2 separate regions of the Homo sapiens genome follow, and region 2 is linked to region 1. A link means that fine-mapping ties the variant in region 1 to the expression of a gene that starts in the linked region. Tissue or cell type: skeletal muscle. Region 1 holds a variant in brackets; the other region holds the start of a gene. All regions are shown on one strand. Distances are between the middles of the regions.

Evidence for each region. PIP is the estimated chance that this variant, and not a neighbour inherited with it, causes the effect.
Region 2: it holds the start of FNDC3A, and the variant in region 1 is fine-mapped to the expression of FNDC3A in skeletal muscle (FUSION, PIP 0.95).

What each region holds. Positions count from the first base shown.
Region 1 is chr13:49,108,027-49,116,133 of GRCh38, reverse strand. FNDC3A (fibronectin type III domain containing 3A) reads right to left here. Exons shown (of 26, transcript NM_001079673.2): 4 at 1,403-1,479. Among named protein-coding and RNA genes, the nearest start is that of MLNR, 110 kb to the left of the region's middle. RefSeq lists enhancers at 2,308-2,811, 2,812-3,316. The variant G/TG (reference allele first, on the strand shown) is at 4,409.
Region 2 is chr13:48,970,953-48,979,059 of GRCh38, reverse strand. FNDC3A (fibronectin type III domain containing 3A) reads right to left here and starts at 3,148. Exons shown (of 26, transcript NM_001079673.2): 1 at 2,883-3,148. RefSeq lists enhancers at 2,114-2,213, 2,374-2,993, 2,884-3,183, 2,994-3,613, 3,884-3,943 and silencers at 2,354-2,833, 3,164-3,433.

The DNA of each region.
Region 1 (8,107 bases):
ATGAGAGAACAGCAGATAACCTAAGTGCACTGAAAGAACTTGTCTTAATCATCTTTTTATCACTAGCTCCCAATACAGAGCTCAGTACGTGGTGCCACTCAATAAATCATGAACTGAACTATGCTAGAGAACAGTCTTCATGTAAGAGAAGGAAGATCTGAGAAGGTGCAACAAAGAAGTAGAAAACAAAAATCAGGGCAGCATGATGTCAAGGAAATCTGTAGTAAATCTTATCAGTGGTACCAAATTTTTAGAGGTCAAAGAGGACCAGGCTGGAAAGCAGGACTTTGGATTTGGTACATAGCGGAAAGCAGTTTTAGTAGAGTAATATAGACAGAATGCAGACTATATTAAGGAGTCAGTGTGCTAAACAAAAGTAGAGATAGTTAGTAGAGACTACTCTGAAAAGCTTACAAGGTAATTTCAGTACGTGATCTCATCTCATAATGAAGGCACTGAGACTGAAGGAAGTTGATTTGCCCAAGACCATGCAGCCAGCAAAGGTTTGAAATAAGATATGGATTCAGCTTTTCTGAATCCATTCTAAATCTCATTCCATTCTCTCCTTCCCAGCACGCTCTTCTTTTGCTGTGGTTCATATGATGGTGTGCTTCACAGAGTGTGCAGAAAATCCACCCCAATATCCCACCACCAATATTCTGGCATAATCAGGGAGGAAGTAACAGAGGGCCTGAAGAAAAACTTCAAGTGTAAATTCAATGCTAGGGAGAGAAAATGATTATTTCCCAAAATAGATTGAGGCAAAGCGTGCAGACCATACGAAATCTCAGTAGTGGAAGATATTGAACACCTGCAGATTTTACAGTTTAATTCAGTTTGCCTGTGTTCATAAATTACTATACTTAAGGTCAGAGCTTCCCAGTCATTATGCATAAAAGGTTACAGGTGTATGGAGATACTGATTTTTTTTTTTTATTTCCCCCCCCCCCTCATCCCTCAGGGTTGCTAAACTCTTTTCTATTGAACACAATATGCCATGCAATTATCAACAGTGTCTGAGATTCATTGTATGAATAAAGTTGGAAGCATTGTCTTGGGTTACATCTAAGCAAATTTCTAAATTTAAAAATGTCAGTGTAGGCACCTTTACAACCTAAAATATTATTTTTATTTAGTCATATATTTAGGGAGACAAAACTCTAGAATGAATTTTCTTTTGTGACTTAACACCCAAAGACAAGGACAAATGATGAGTGCTGCCAATAAAAATTTTTCTTCCTTTCCAAATGTACTAAAATACTTGAAATAGATTTATGATAGATACACAACACTTGGTAAGCCTCAGTAATTAAATGGTTTTTTTAAATCAAAATCAAAGTCAAAGAGAATAACATTATCACTATTATACAAATATGAAAAGAAAAATAGCATAAAAACATACCTGTGGGGCATATCCAGGAGGCACATAGATAGGAGGCACAGAACCATTTGGGGACATCATTGGAACCTGAGCAGGACCTGAATGGGTCACATAAATGATGTATTAACCCATGATTGCTTATCAGGCTAAAGTTGAAAACAATTTGAATTACATTTTGAATACTTCATCTAAACACTCAAGCCAACAGTAACTACATTTTTATAAAAAGAAATTCAGATGATTGACTTGTTATAAAAATTTATCTTGTAAAGTGCACAAATTACCCTTTACCTACATTTGTGTTTTTTAAAGTTGCTGGGGTAGGGGTGGTGGGGGGCGGGGAGGTTGGAGGGCTTTTTAAAACATATTAACAGGCTCTCCTAGAGATTCTTAGTCAATGGGGTCTTGAATCATTATATTCACTTTACAAATATCCCAGGTGACTCTTATAATAGTGTAAGTTTAGAAACACTGACCTAGAGAAAAATCAAACTAAACTCTGCATATAAAATCAATGAAAAATACAAAAGGCAAAATTTTCAAAAGTTACAGGGACAAAATAAAAAAGCAAGAGTGAAAAGCAGCAAGAGGAAGAATAGTTAGAAATTTGGAACTTGCTTTGTTAGGGTTAAAATACTTGTGTAATGTGTGACTCATGTCTATGGGGGCTTAAGAACAAAGAGAAATGCCACACGTGTACTTACCCAAAGGAAAAAAAAATTTTTTTTTGTTTCTCACACTAAAAAGTTCTAAAAAAGAAAATTCAGCTTCTCTCACTCTACACTTCCTTTCACTTTTATAGTGTTAGGTTTTCCAATTAACTTTTATAACTATTATCTCTAGTTTACCTTCTCTTTTAACATTTCTGGGAACAAAAGAAGCATTTGGAGAAGGTGTGTTTTGTTCTTTCTAGGAACTAAAATCTTAGTTGCTTTATGTAACTTTTAAAAAAGTCTCTTACCCCCCTTCAGTTCCTTTCTTCCTGTAACTTTACACTGCAGTGTCCCCTCATGCCCACCAGTTTTTTATAACCTGAAATGAAACCTTTTCAAAGAAATTACTTATTTCTAAGGGAATAAGAACAAAGGTCTGATGAGGAATGTAAAGGGGGAAGGATCTCTTTTATATGCAGAATTATAATCTACCATTATATAATGGCTCTCAGCTATAAAAGAAATAAAGGAGGAAAAGCTCAAATGTAGGGTAGAAAACAAGTAACTCTGTTAATATTATACATACTTCAGAAAATCAGAATAAAGGACATGGAGGTCACAACAAATCCGGATTACAGCCATTCTGCCCTTTCTAGGGAAGGCAAGGGGTGAGGACAGAACCACACAGTGGTGATGAAATTAGGGCTAGGGAGATGAGAGAGCTAGGGAAGAGAAAAGAGAATACAAAAGAAAGGGGGTGTAAGAGGGAAACTACTAAACGGGGTGACGGAAAATACTAAACAGGGGTAAGGAAAGTGGGGAAAGTGGAGGAAAAAAGGGGGAAGCAAGCAAGGAGAGGAGAAAGGCAAGAGGGGAGAGAAGGAGAGAGGCGAGAGGTAAGAGAAGAAAAGGGAGGGATAAGAAAGGGGACAAGAGGCAGTAAAGGAGAGTGAAGAGAAGACAAGAAGGGAGGGAGAGGAGAAAACAGAAGGGTAAGGGGGAGGAGGAACGATGTGGAGAAATAGGAGAAAGGGGGAGGGGAGGGAAAGGACAGAAGAGGTGGGGAGGGGAAGAGAAAGTAGGGATAAGACTGAAGTGGTTGAGAGAAAGTAAGAAGTGTTTGTGTAGAACACTAAATTACACTATATAATATCTGGCTGTGAAAAGAACTTTTCAATAAGATACTCTTCCCATCCAAAACAAGACCACCACCAAATACATGAAGTTGTCCAGAATATTATTTTAATTATATATAGCTAATACTAACTTACTATGTGCCAGGCCTTTTACATATTTTTTCTCCTCATAATCATTCTATCAGGTAAATATCATCATCATCATCATCTCCATTTTCTAGATGTGGAAACTGAGGCACAGAGAGGTTAAGCTCCCCAAGTGGTAGAAGTGGGATTCAAAACCAGGTAGTTTTATTTCTAAGGACATATCCTTACCACATTTTTAGTAAACATTAAAATACTATGCAGTATTGGCAACTGATATAATTTGAGGCTTAAGAACAATGCTCTAAAGCCTCTAAGGAAAATTAAGGCCTTTGTTGTCTTTACATCCGTAAAAACATGAGAGAAAGAATAAAATTTTCTTAAGTTTAAGCAAACATTACCTATTAATTTACTGAATAAAACTTGTGAGCTGCTTTATACCTCTAGGCAGAAAAGCTTCATGCAAAACTCACCTTTTAGCTCCTATATTCTAGACTCAAGAGAAATGAGAACTGTTTTAAACTAATGCTGGTTTACTTCCATTAGCTAATTTATATAAAACTACAGTAAACTAACTTCCTGAATCCTTACAGGTGGCTTAGGTATTACTTACAATATGTGAAATTCAGCTGAGAACTTGACAGAGAATTCACTGAAAATCATATTTTATAATGTTAATAAAGGCCATTAGCATTGCACTTTTACTGTGGGTCCTTTTATATGCTGTCAAATTTAATCCTTACATCAAGTCATCAGAATAGGTTTTTCTTTTGCCATCAGAATAATAAGTTATTGCTAATTACATTTAAAATAGTAAAATCACACAATTGCTTCAAGTGGCCCTCCTTTTACCAGAAATACGAATATATATGTAGTTACAATTCAAACCATTTTATACTTTGATAGCCGCTAAAATAGTTTATAATTTGGTAATACAAGATTCTACTTTGTTTTTTAATTATATCTAAGTGTGATGCTGAAAAGAGAAATGTAAGCTAAAATAAACCAGTAGTAAATATATTACTAGATGTAGTCCAGGAAAAAGACTGATTAACTTACTTCTTTACGAAGTAATCCTTTCACTCTAGCAAAAAAATTTTTTTTTTATCCTGAGGCAGAAATTGTACATGGTTAGATTTTTTTTTTTTTTTTTT[G/TG]AGACGGAGTTTTACTCTGTTGCCCAGGCTGGAGTGCAGTGGCGCTATCTCAGCTCAATGCAACCTCTTCCTCCTGGGTTCAAGTGATTCTTCTGCTTCAGCCTCCCGAGTAGCTGGGATTACATGCATGTGCCACCACGCCCGGCTAATTTTTGTATTTTTAGTAGAGACGGGGTTTCACCATGTTGGCCAGGCTGGTCTTGAACTCCTAACCTCAGGTGATCCACCTGCCTCGGGCTCCCAAAGTGCTAGGATTACAGGTGTGAGCCACCATGCCCGGCCAGATTTTCTTTTAAAAAGACAATTTATCGGTATCATATTTAATGCCTAAAATATTGCTGTGAAGTAACATTCAACACTGAATGCAAACCCCTATTGTATAAACATAATAAATACAAGTATCGATGTTTAGAACTACAACGTTTACAGCATCTCATGTCTGTTGTTACTCCTGTGTCTATAGTAGCGAAACCTTAAAGCCTTGCATATTTAATGATGTAAATGTTTGATTAGCTCCTTAGTTCCAACAATACTTTTTAATTTAGAAAGTAACAGAAAATTAACTACAAACTGACTTAAATTTGTATGCAATGAGGGAGATTTTGTCCCAAGGAAGAAACTCAGATCCTATTGACAAATGTATGCCTGGCACAAGAGTAGCAATACCTGACAACAACTGTGCATACACTTAGCAGCTCCTTTATAATCTATGTGATTTGAGCATGATTTACCCCAATCATGGAGCTATTAAGGATACATTTCCTATTTCAAAAACCTGCAGAAGAGTAAACAATTCTAACCAATTGTCTTAAGAAATTTGAGAAGCTCCCCACCCCTGCTTCTTAAAAAGTGCCATCACTGACTTAAAGAAGATATTTCAACTAGTATAACTTAAATTCTTCTTTATCTTTCCTTGTTAATATACATTCATATTTAAGAGGTTTTTTTTAAATAAAATTACAAATTTGTCCAGGAGTTTTAATTCTTAAAATGCAACGTGCTGCCGCTGTGCTACACATTCTCTATAAGCCAGCGTTCACAATGGCTTCCAAATAATCTGATGCCAATTTTCAGATTTTAGCTCTAGAAGAAAAACCTAGTAAAATAAAGATCCTAGAATGGAATATTCCGTGGAATACAAAATTACAAAATAACTCTACATAGTCTAACCTTTTTGTATTTACATGGCAACAATTTAAAATATTTTATGGCGATGATATTTAGCATCTATTTTTAAAAACACACGGCATGACTTTAGATTAATACAATGCTTTCTGTCTTAAAATAAAAGCAGAATGTTCGAAAACAGCAAATCTTACCACTCATTTCGTTTTTACAGTAGCAGCAGAGAACAAGAAAATCCAACAAGGAAACAGCGTAGTACACGTTAACAGCTTTAATTGGAGAACGGCTTTTTTTTTTTTTGCAAGGCTGTAAGAGGAAAAGATCCTTTGACCGAGTCACGTGACAGTCATCACGTGACCTGCAGTGACCCAGGAAAGGGCAAGGGGGAAAAAAAAGCAAACGTTCCCGCTTGCAGCATTTCTGATATAGGGGAAAAAAAAGATTAAATGATTTCTACTGCTGCTGCCCTGAATTTGACCATCTTTCAGACTTCCTTATGAACCAATTCAAAAGCTCATCAAAGTATACTTTTCAGAAATATATATTTGATGTACAATGATTCTCTTTGTGTTCAATAACACCACAGGTGCTATCTTCTAATTTTTTACTCATGCAGCCTGCCGCTAATTTTCATTTAGAACATTTGAGATAATATTAATTTAAAAGATTCAGTCTGAAATGTCATTGTATAACGTAATTCTCCATACTCAATCCTTAAGGAATATCCACAATACACAAATAATTGTGTATAGAATATAGGTTTGATAGACATGTGTCTCAAAGGTGGGATTTATGTTTCAGGCTGTTATTTGCCTCTTAAGAGAATAAAGACTACCACTTTCATTATTGGTTTTATTTTCTTTCTGATTTTTTTAAATTTAAGATTTAAATTAAAGTGCAGGTGCTCAGTAGATGGCATTCTTACTCATATCCACGAATCTGAAAAGACAGCCTCAGGTGCAGGTTCAGAGTTCTCTATCCAAGAACAAGTAGAGACCAGAAAGGAGACCAAAGATGTCCAGTTACAACAGGAAAGAATAAGAACTTTTGGAGATCTTTCATTACTTTATGGTGCTATGTAACTTCAGAGGAAATTTATTAACAGCTAACAAAAATATACAGGTAATGATAATGACAGTGGTTTGTAACAAGTTGTACAGTGGAAAGAAAGTGAATTTTGGTATTAAAAGATATATTTTAATAACAGCTTCAGTATTTATTAGCAAGGCAATTTACTGCTCTTCTCTGAAGTCTTAGCTTATTTCAGTGACAAGGTTAATCAACATCATAGCATTGTTGTGAGAATGAAATTAAATAAATTTAAAGTATCAAGTATATTGGTTGATGATACTCAGTAAATAGTTATAATATGTAAAAGTATGATCACCATGTTTTCAAAAATAACCACATAGTGCAGAGTACATACTAGGCATCATTTGGAGTGTTTTACTTGCGTTAACTCACTTAATCCTAACAAGTGAAGTGAGCATCATTTCCAGGTAAGAAAACTGAAGCAGAGTAACATGCCAAGGGCACAAAGCGAGGCAAAGGCAGGATTATCTAATAATAAGGCTATACTTTTCAAAAAGTGTAAACTATGTTCAAAGGCCCCATCTCACACAAAGGTGGAAAACAACTGGCAAAGGATAACCTAGAGAAATAGGTCTCAATAAATATATGTAAGACACCCCAGAGGAGATAAGACAGTAAGGGCCTATTCTTACAAGTGGGGAAAGGTAATTGTTAACTTCAAAATTCCTATGAAAAGGCAGGGTTGCCCTGAAAAACGAGACCAAAGGGCAAGGAGTCTCCTGGTCTCAACAGAATGTACTCATATACGTTAGACCCAGCCCCCCTGTAAATCCGACCATGTCTCTGATCTTCAGCCCCTAAACAAAAAGCAAGCCTCTGCAGCCCACCTTCTTATTTTGGCTCACATTTGCACACAGCCTGTATTTCTATTTCTTGACTATTTAACTTATCATCTCCTTTCAATCCTTTCCATTATGCTCACTAGAAAGTTTTTTTCCATTATAAATAAATTCTCCTATATCCTCAACCTTTTTACAGAACACTTGTTCCTGTGTTGCCTTGAAATGAAGCATGGATGTCCTGTAGAAAACTTTCCCCAGCATGCCCCAGGAGCAGAGACTTCCTATCCTCTCCTGAAGCAGTGTTGGTAGTCTGCAGATACTCCAAGGCTGCTTCCCTTCACCACTGTTGTTCCTGTTTCATGCTAAAGTTCCTTCTTCCTTGAGATCACGGCATATGTGCATACAACCCTCTACCCCTTCTCAATGCTTTAAGGCTGAGTCCTCATTTATTGAGAACTTTGGCGCTGTGATCAATTTTGTTCTCTATCCCAACTCTTGTCTATCAGCATGACTTTAATGTCCAAAATCTAGGCTTAAAATTCCTTGAACTCGTGTCTTTCATTCTATTTTTAGTAACCCATGTTCAAAGATACATCCTGGAACTTATTACTTAGAACTCCACTATCTCATCTTTGAAATATCAAACTTTCATGTGGCCATCATATCTTTCTTTCATCTCTCCAGTTCTCTTTCTTCTACA
Region 2 (8,107 bases), 140 kb after region 1:
CACAGGTTACACAGAAAACTTGAAAGTATATATTAAAGACAAGCAAAACCACAACAGTGGGAAGACAGAAAGGTAAGAATAAAGATATAAAAAGAGACCACTGAATAATTATCTGAAATAAGACCAAAATATTAAGAAAATTATAAAAGCTCACAATACATGTAAAAGTACAAAATTTGCCTTTCAACATTAATGGCCACTAATTTCGTTTTAACAAGTAGTTTTTGACATTCACACATATGGGAGCCATATTTCTTGTTTTGCAATGTGATAAACTGAAGCAGTAAAAGGCTCAATGGAATAAATATGCACCATATTCTAAACCTTCGGAATTACAATATTGTGAGTTTATTTGAAGTCCGCTAGGCAATGCTAAAAACAAAACAAAAAAAACAAAAGCAAACAAAAAAAAACCAGAAACACTAATCACTTAGTTATCTGGCTAATAAAATTGGAAATCATGTGCATATCCCTACACCATTCTCAAAGACACGATCTAGATTCATTTTCATTCAAAAATGCACCAACAATGTTTCAAAAAAAAAACGTTTTTGGTTACTTCATCAAATTGTATTTTAAAAATACTGGCAGATTATAAAATACACAAGCCTTGGATGTCATGAACATCTTAAAAAATGCAAATGTTTTAAAACAGCGCAAATATTACTAAAAATTGATAAAGTATAAATTAAATGCTCTTTGCCTAAAACTACAAAAGACAATGAGAATATGAATCATGCATTCCCTCTTTTTTTCGGGGGGTTAAGGATGTCTCAGCCCTTAGCTATGTCTGGCTGGTCAGGGAAGAGGGAGAAATTTTTAAATTAGTAATAAAATATGCTTACTATTATATTGTAGAAATGTGACTAGTAAAGAGTAATCATTACATGTGTGTTAAAATAAATCAGGTCTCAATTACTCACACAGATAGAGGAAGTGAAGACACAGACGTCACCAAAAGAAGATAATCCTAGAATGTTTTTTTTAATGCTTATTATTAATTTGGGATAAATTAATTACCCTTATAACTATGCTTGACAGTGTTAACCAGGATTTTATTTTTCCGGAGCATTCAATGATTTGGAGGATTCAGACAAAAGGGAAAAAGAGGGAGTTAATTCAGAAGCATACAGGTGGCTAACGGTAGCCAGCCTGGGATAAAAAATTTTCCAGTTAACCTACACATAGAAAACTAACAGATGATCTATGAAATGAAACAAGACAATATAGTAAAATTTAATGTAGTAGTGCTAAAAAATTTAAATATAAGATTTAATATTAAAATTTTAACAAGATGTTTCTCCTGTCATCATCCCTTCTTCCCACTAACTGGTGTGATTAGAAAGCAAGATTAGTAGGCTACAAAGCTAAAAGCAACATTTCAGGTTATATTTCATAAAAGATGTGGTAAAAATCCTTCATCACTGTTTTCTGTTGGGCCACCATCTGTCTCAGTGAGTACTTCATCTCATTACTTAAGAAAAATTAATTCAACCAAGAAAATATCCAAAAGACAGGGGATTCAACTCACTTGAACATTTGTGGGTGACACAAGATGACAAGAGTTAGTAAATACGCAAAAACTAAATATTTATCCAAACATAAGATCAGAACCACAAAACTCAATTCGTTTCTGCCTAACATATGGCTCAAACTCCTGAGTGGCGTATGTTTAGTACTGGAGCTGGTAACAGCATGGTGATAAAATATTATAGTAAGAGTTCAACTGTTATTTCATTCCTACAATACAGAAGCATACACACTTTGGTTTCAAGAACTAAAAAACACAGACCACAGTAAGAAGCAAAATAATTACGTTGTTCGGTTTTAAAAACCCATAGTGAACACATAATGATTATACCGCAAAAAGAAAAAAAAAATCTCATCAGCCTGCGACTCTTATTTAATAGATGGTCAGACACAAAGGTGTCCAAAGGAACTTACGTAAAATCTCACAAAAGAAAATCTCGAATTCACAATCTCTAGCACCCCCAGCAAATCATCGCATTCCACCCTCTAAAATATCCCAAGGCTTGTAACGCTAACAGTTGAATAAAAGAACAATTAACGACCACATCCATTAAAACAGTCCCTCTTCTGCTCGCAATCTGACAGCGAAATTATCTGTTCATTTTCCTTTACCTAACACATGACGTCGTTTCCAAAGCCGTGTCAAAAGTTCGAAGATCCAGGTTGTTAAAACCGGGCGAGGACTGCAGCCTCGAGTCCACCTCCCGACTGAACAGGTGGTTAACTCGCCCGGGGAGAGGAACTGCCAGGTACTGGAAGCAGCCACGCAGGATCAAACAGAGGGCGGGTTTTCGAGGTTTTAACCCCAAGATGAGCGGGGAAAACTCTCTTCAGAAAAGCGTTCAAGTTCGGCGGCTGCCGGGCGGCCAAAGCCGAAGGCGCCGCGGGTGCTGGGCGATCCTCTCAGGAGGATTCCGCCCCAGCCCCCGCCCCCGCCCCCGCCCCCGAGCCCTCCGGAGCTACGCGGCTCGCCGCGGGGAGGAGGCGGGGGACAGAGAGAAGGGCCGCCCGCGCACCAGCGCCACCTCCCTCGGGCTAGATGCCGCCTCCTCTTGGGCTGGATGGCGCCCCCGGCCGCGCCCCCGCAAGCGTGTCCTGGCTAGGCTCGGCCCCGGCAGGTGCCCGACTAGTAGACCGGTCCTGTCCCCGGCCCCACTGCCCCTCTGCACCTCTGCCCACAGCGCGCCCACAGAAGGGGGTGGTCCGCGCCCCTCGACGGGGCCGAGCCCTGGAGAGTGCCCCGGCCCTCAGTCCCAGCCTAACGGTTTCCGCGGCGCCTCCTCCGGGGCGGGACGGGGTTGGGACGGCTCGGTGTCCCCCGCCTTTCGCGGAGGGAGTGCCCGCGCTCTCACCTCCGAGTCACGCCGTTCTGAGGCAGAAGGCGGCTCCTCTGGCGCCTCTTCTTAGGGTTCCTGATCGTTGTCTCTCTACCTCAGCTGCAGAGTCAGCTCTCAGGGCCGCCGCGGCCGCCGGCGCGCTGACTGTTGGGGTTGTTTCCTGGCAGTGACGCCGCCGCCTCAGCCCCGCTCTTCGCTCCCTCTCCGCGTAGCTCCCGCTTTCTGTTTCACCCGAGGGACCACGAACGCCGCCGCCGCCATGCTTACTACGGAGCCGGGAGGAGGAGCCCGAAGTCGGCGCGCCGAGTGCGGCTGCGCGGGCCCCGCCGACGGAGCCCGCGGCCGGGACCCCGAACCCCCGCCTCGAGCCCGCCGCGCCGGGGCTCTCTCACCGGAACGCGAGTCCCCGCGGGGCCACCGGCGCGTGGCGGCTGAGCGGCCGCGTTTGGCTCCCGGAGCGCCCACACCCTCTCGGGCTTCCGGCTTTCTCCCGAGGCCCGGCTGCGCCTGGCTTGTGGTAGCATCCGCTGTGGCCAGGCTCGGAGCTACACTCAGGAAAAGTGGAGTTAATGGAGGTTCCTAGAGACACTCACACAATTCTCAATCCACATTTCAAAAGGCTCCCCTGAGACGCACCCTGTCGGCCCCTTTCCGAAAGCACGCGAACTTAAGGCTGGCAGGTGCTTTAAAAGACACTCCTCCCAAGGACTAGGAAGCCTCTGAAATGGGCTTGGAAGTTTCTAATCCCAAAGACTTCGAACCCAGGATCTGGATAGCAAGCAAAAATATTTAGATATTTACTCAGTTGAAAACGTGGGGGGTGGCTTCGTGGTCTCTTCGCCAGCCAAATCGCGTGGAAAACCACGACCTCAATTTTTACAACAGCACGAAGACTTACAAGTGAGCGTAGCAGCGACTTCCTGGAACCTCAAACAATGTGGGACGCTGCAATAATGCCTGAGGGCTTTTGACTTACAGTTGCCGCCGGAGACCTGGGGAGGGGGTAGTACTTGGGCCGGTGAGTCCAGCCTCAGGAACTGTCCTTTCAAAAATGGTGATGGATGTAACAAGTTGCATGTCTGGGCTTTATTTCAGTGTATTAATTGTGCGATCTTTTAAAATAGCTGTATTTTTAAAACTGTTTTACAGAAATCTCTTTAAAATGTGATTATTCTCTATATTCTTAAAGAATACAATGGCTAATTAAATCCTTTGTTGATAACTGACTCTCAAACCGATATCTTGGCCATACGTTTAAGTCCCAGAGGATTGCTGCGGTGTATAGAATCCCTACTTTGGTGCTCTCTTTTTTTCCCTCTTTGGAATGTTCTCATCACCTCTTCTAAAATCCTTCACTGCTTTTCATCTCCTCATCTGCCTCTATCCACTCTGATCCTTCCTCTTATTCTTTCTGCTTTACTGTTTATTTTTCATTCTTCTCTCCTTTCTCGGCTGGTTTTCTCTGCGGCTCCAGGTGAAGATTGATGGGATGTTTATGTCCACAGCCAGCTAATGAGAGGTTTCTTTTCTTCTGGTTGTAAATAGGGCAGTGGTATCTTGAGATATTTTCATTGCTCTTCACTATCAGAAGTTCTTTCCCTGTGAGAGATGTTTCCTTTTCTTAACTTTTGGATTTGGCCCTCTTCGAGACAGCTGGCAAGTTGATCTTGGAATAATTGAAGTATAACTGTATATTGTTTCAAAGTATGAGGATTTTATCAGAGTGTGGGCGAATGGGGTGGCTTCCCCATCTTACTGCCCAACTATGCTTGGTCTGAGACTAAGATAGTGGTTTCCAAACTTACCGCTAAGCTAATACTTTCCTACTCTGCTTCCTACTCAGGAGCTTTTTGAAAATACAGAATCCTGCAATCTACCCCCTCAAGATTCTGATTCCTTTGTCCAGGGAGAGGCCAAGACATGGCACTTTTAAAAACTATATTTAAAAAAATATGTTTGGGACATGCCTACATGTAAAGGCAGAGTAAAGAAGATCAGCTGTTTTTGAAGGAGATTAACACATAATTTAAGAATGTTATTGAAGACCTAGAGATTGTAGTCAATAATATGCAATGCAGTAAGGTGAAGTAAAGTGAAGACCAAGGAATTTATGGCCTTTGGAGAGAAGAAAACCCACACATAAATGACCCTAGCATGTGCACCAGTATGAGTTCTCTGGGAACAGAGAGAGGGTCAAGAAATTATGTTGGCTTTGAACAAGTTCTCTTCTCAATGCTTCACTTTTTTTTTATCAATAAAATGGGAGCCATTTTCAATCCTCATCTTTCTTGGCCTCTCAACAATACTCAACACTTTGACCACTATTCTTTCTTAAACATTTCTTCTTCCTTTGACACTGCATTTTCTTGGTTTTCCTCCTTAGTTTCCTAGGCACTGCTTCTCTGATTCCTTTGCATATTCCTGCTGGTCTCCCTAACTATTAAATATAACAGTACCTTAAAATTCAGTTTTAGATTCTTTTCTGTTTTCATTGTAATCTCTTGGCCTAAGCAGCATCACCCACGCCAATGGCTTTAGTTATCATCTATATGCCAGTGATCTCCACATATATGCCTCCAGCCCAGACCTTTCCTCTAAATTCCAAATCTGATCCACTAGTCAAAGTTTGACCCTACCTCTAAATTCCAAGCTTCACTGACATGGCCACTTAATATCTCAAAGTTGCAAAGTTTAGTCCAACTGAGTTCATGAACACTTGTTTTCCTTATCCCCCATCTCTCTAGTTATTCAAATCAAATATCTAGTAGTCAGTAACCGCTGATGTCTCCCTCACCTCCATTCTTCCATTCTCCATATTTGTTGCAGCACTAACTCCTGGCAATTTTATTTCTAAAATCTAATTGGTCTACTTCTTTCCAATCACCACCAATCTAATTCGATCTCACTGTATACAATCTGGGATCCTCCATTCAGTCTCCATTTTGCAGCCAAAATTATCCTCTAAGAAAGCAAATGAGACTATGTCACTACTCCAAAAATCTCCTTAAACAGTTTCTCATTGCTTTAGGATAAGTCTAGAATTCTTAAGGCAGCCTAAAAGACCATACGAGGTCTGGCCTTACCTGCCTTTTCCAGCCTCATCTCACACCATTTTCACCTTGTTTCCTGGGCAGACTTCCTGGTCTTCTTTTAGTTTCTCAAAAATGCTATGATCCCAACAACCAAAGGCTCTATGTACATGCCATTCTCTCCTTTAGTTATCCTATCTCTTACTCATCCTTCAGGTCTCAGCTTGAAAGCGACATCCTTGGGAAAAACATTTCTGACCTCCCAGATACATTCAAGATACCTTGTTATGTCAGCTCTCTTACCACCATATACCCTCCCCTCTTATGACTTACCACAGCTTGTAACTACATTTTGGTATGTGTAACTACTAGGTTAATGTCTGTTGCTCCCCACATTAGGATAAAGACCATGTCTATTTGGGCCTGCACAGTGCCTGGCACATAGAAGCTACCCAATAAATATTTCTTGAATGATTATTGTCCTATGAGTTTATTTCTGGGATTCTAGAAGGTTGTTAGATCGGGAAATTAGATCACTGATCATTTTCAAGAGAGCAATCTTCTGTATGACTAGTGGGAAGAAATGCAGAAATGTGCTGGAAGACAATTCTCTGTGGGACTCTAGTATTTCTGCATGTCTTGTGAGCAGAGGCACTAACAGCTTTTGTTTTAGACTATATTTTCAAGGATTTTTTTTTTTTTTTGGTCAAACTGCCTTGGAAAATATACATAGTGTCCCCTGCCCTGCTCCCCCTCCCCGCCAAGAGCAGGGGCACATTTGTTTACCATCCAATATAGTGAAGATAATGTCTTTGGAGGTAAAGGTCAAGCAGGTTTTCTTGCAGCCTATTATAAAAAGATTGGGGATTTCCTAAGCTTAGATAGAGTTTCTCAGCTGTGAGGCAAACCCACTGCAGGTGCATCACTCACCTGAACCACACCATGTAGCTCCAGGTAAGACCTGGGGGCAAGGGAACTGACTGAACATGACACTGGCGCTGCTTGCTGTGCCATGAGTAATACAGCCCTTTGACTGCAAAGCCCCACGTCTTCTGCCAGCTTCCATGAAACTATAGCAGGTTAAGTGATTAGCTTGCAAGGAGGATGAAATCTCAGACCTTTCATAGTTCTTGACAAAGTACAGTGGGTTAAAGAGAAAGACGAAGATGAAGAAGTCAAACAGCAAGTGGAGACTATTTAGAAAGTTTGGAAAAAAAAGTTTGGTGATGAAGAGGAGAGATGGGACAGCAGATTGAGGTGGGAGGGGTGTGCTGACTGAATTCTCTGAACAATATTGGTGGCCTTAACTCTGAACAGATCCCGACAGAACACTATTGCTGTTGTTCCTCTCTTTGGTTAGGGAACAGGTGCAAATCTGAAAGAGGAGAAGGAGATGGAAGTGGTTGACCTGGAGGTACACCAGTTAAAGCAGCCAGAGCTTTTTTTTTTTTAATCTCTGAGAAGGGGTGTAGTATAATGTGGAGCAGGAAAGACAGGCTTTGGAGTCAGGTAGATCTGGGCTTCAGTCGCAGCTCTATTACTAACTGATTGATTGATCGATCTTAGGCTTGTTATCCAACCTTTCTGGCTTCAGTTCCTCAACTATAAACTAAGGATAAAATACCTACTTTGCAGGATTAAATTTCATAATGTATGAAGATGCCTGGTATATGCTTGATGCTCAATAAATAAATGTGAGCTACATGATTAGGATGTCCTGGCTAATTGTGATTTGGTGAGGTTGGGAAAATCCAGAACCTTCCTCCACATTTCCAAGGATTCTTGGAAAGGAACTTGGCCAGGGTGCACACTTGCTCTGATCCTGTTCCCGTTTCCATCCCACTCTGTGCTTTCCTATGGATGGAACAGCTCCTTCCCTAAAAGCAAAGGAAACAAGACACAGAATAGGAAGCGACTTCACATTTAATGTTGGCCATTCCCACCACAGGGAATTTCTCAGTAGCCATCATTCTTTTCGGATCACACCCTGCCACTATATTGCTGTGGGCCCCTCACCCTAACAAGAACCTTCTCTACATTTTTCTGAATTTCTGGGACTCCTAAAGCCACCTCTCTTTAAAACCACCAGGGGTGGGCCAAGCGCAGTGGCTCATACCTGTAATCCCAGCACTTTGGGAGGCCAAGGTGGGCAGATCATGAGGTCAGGAGTTTGAGACCAGCCTGACCAACATGGAGAAACTCTGTCTCTAC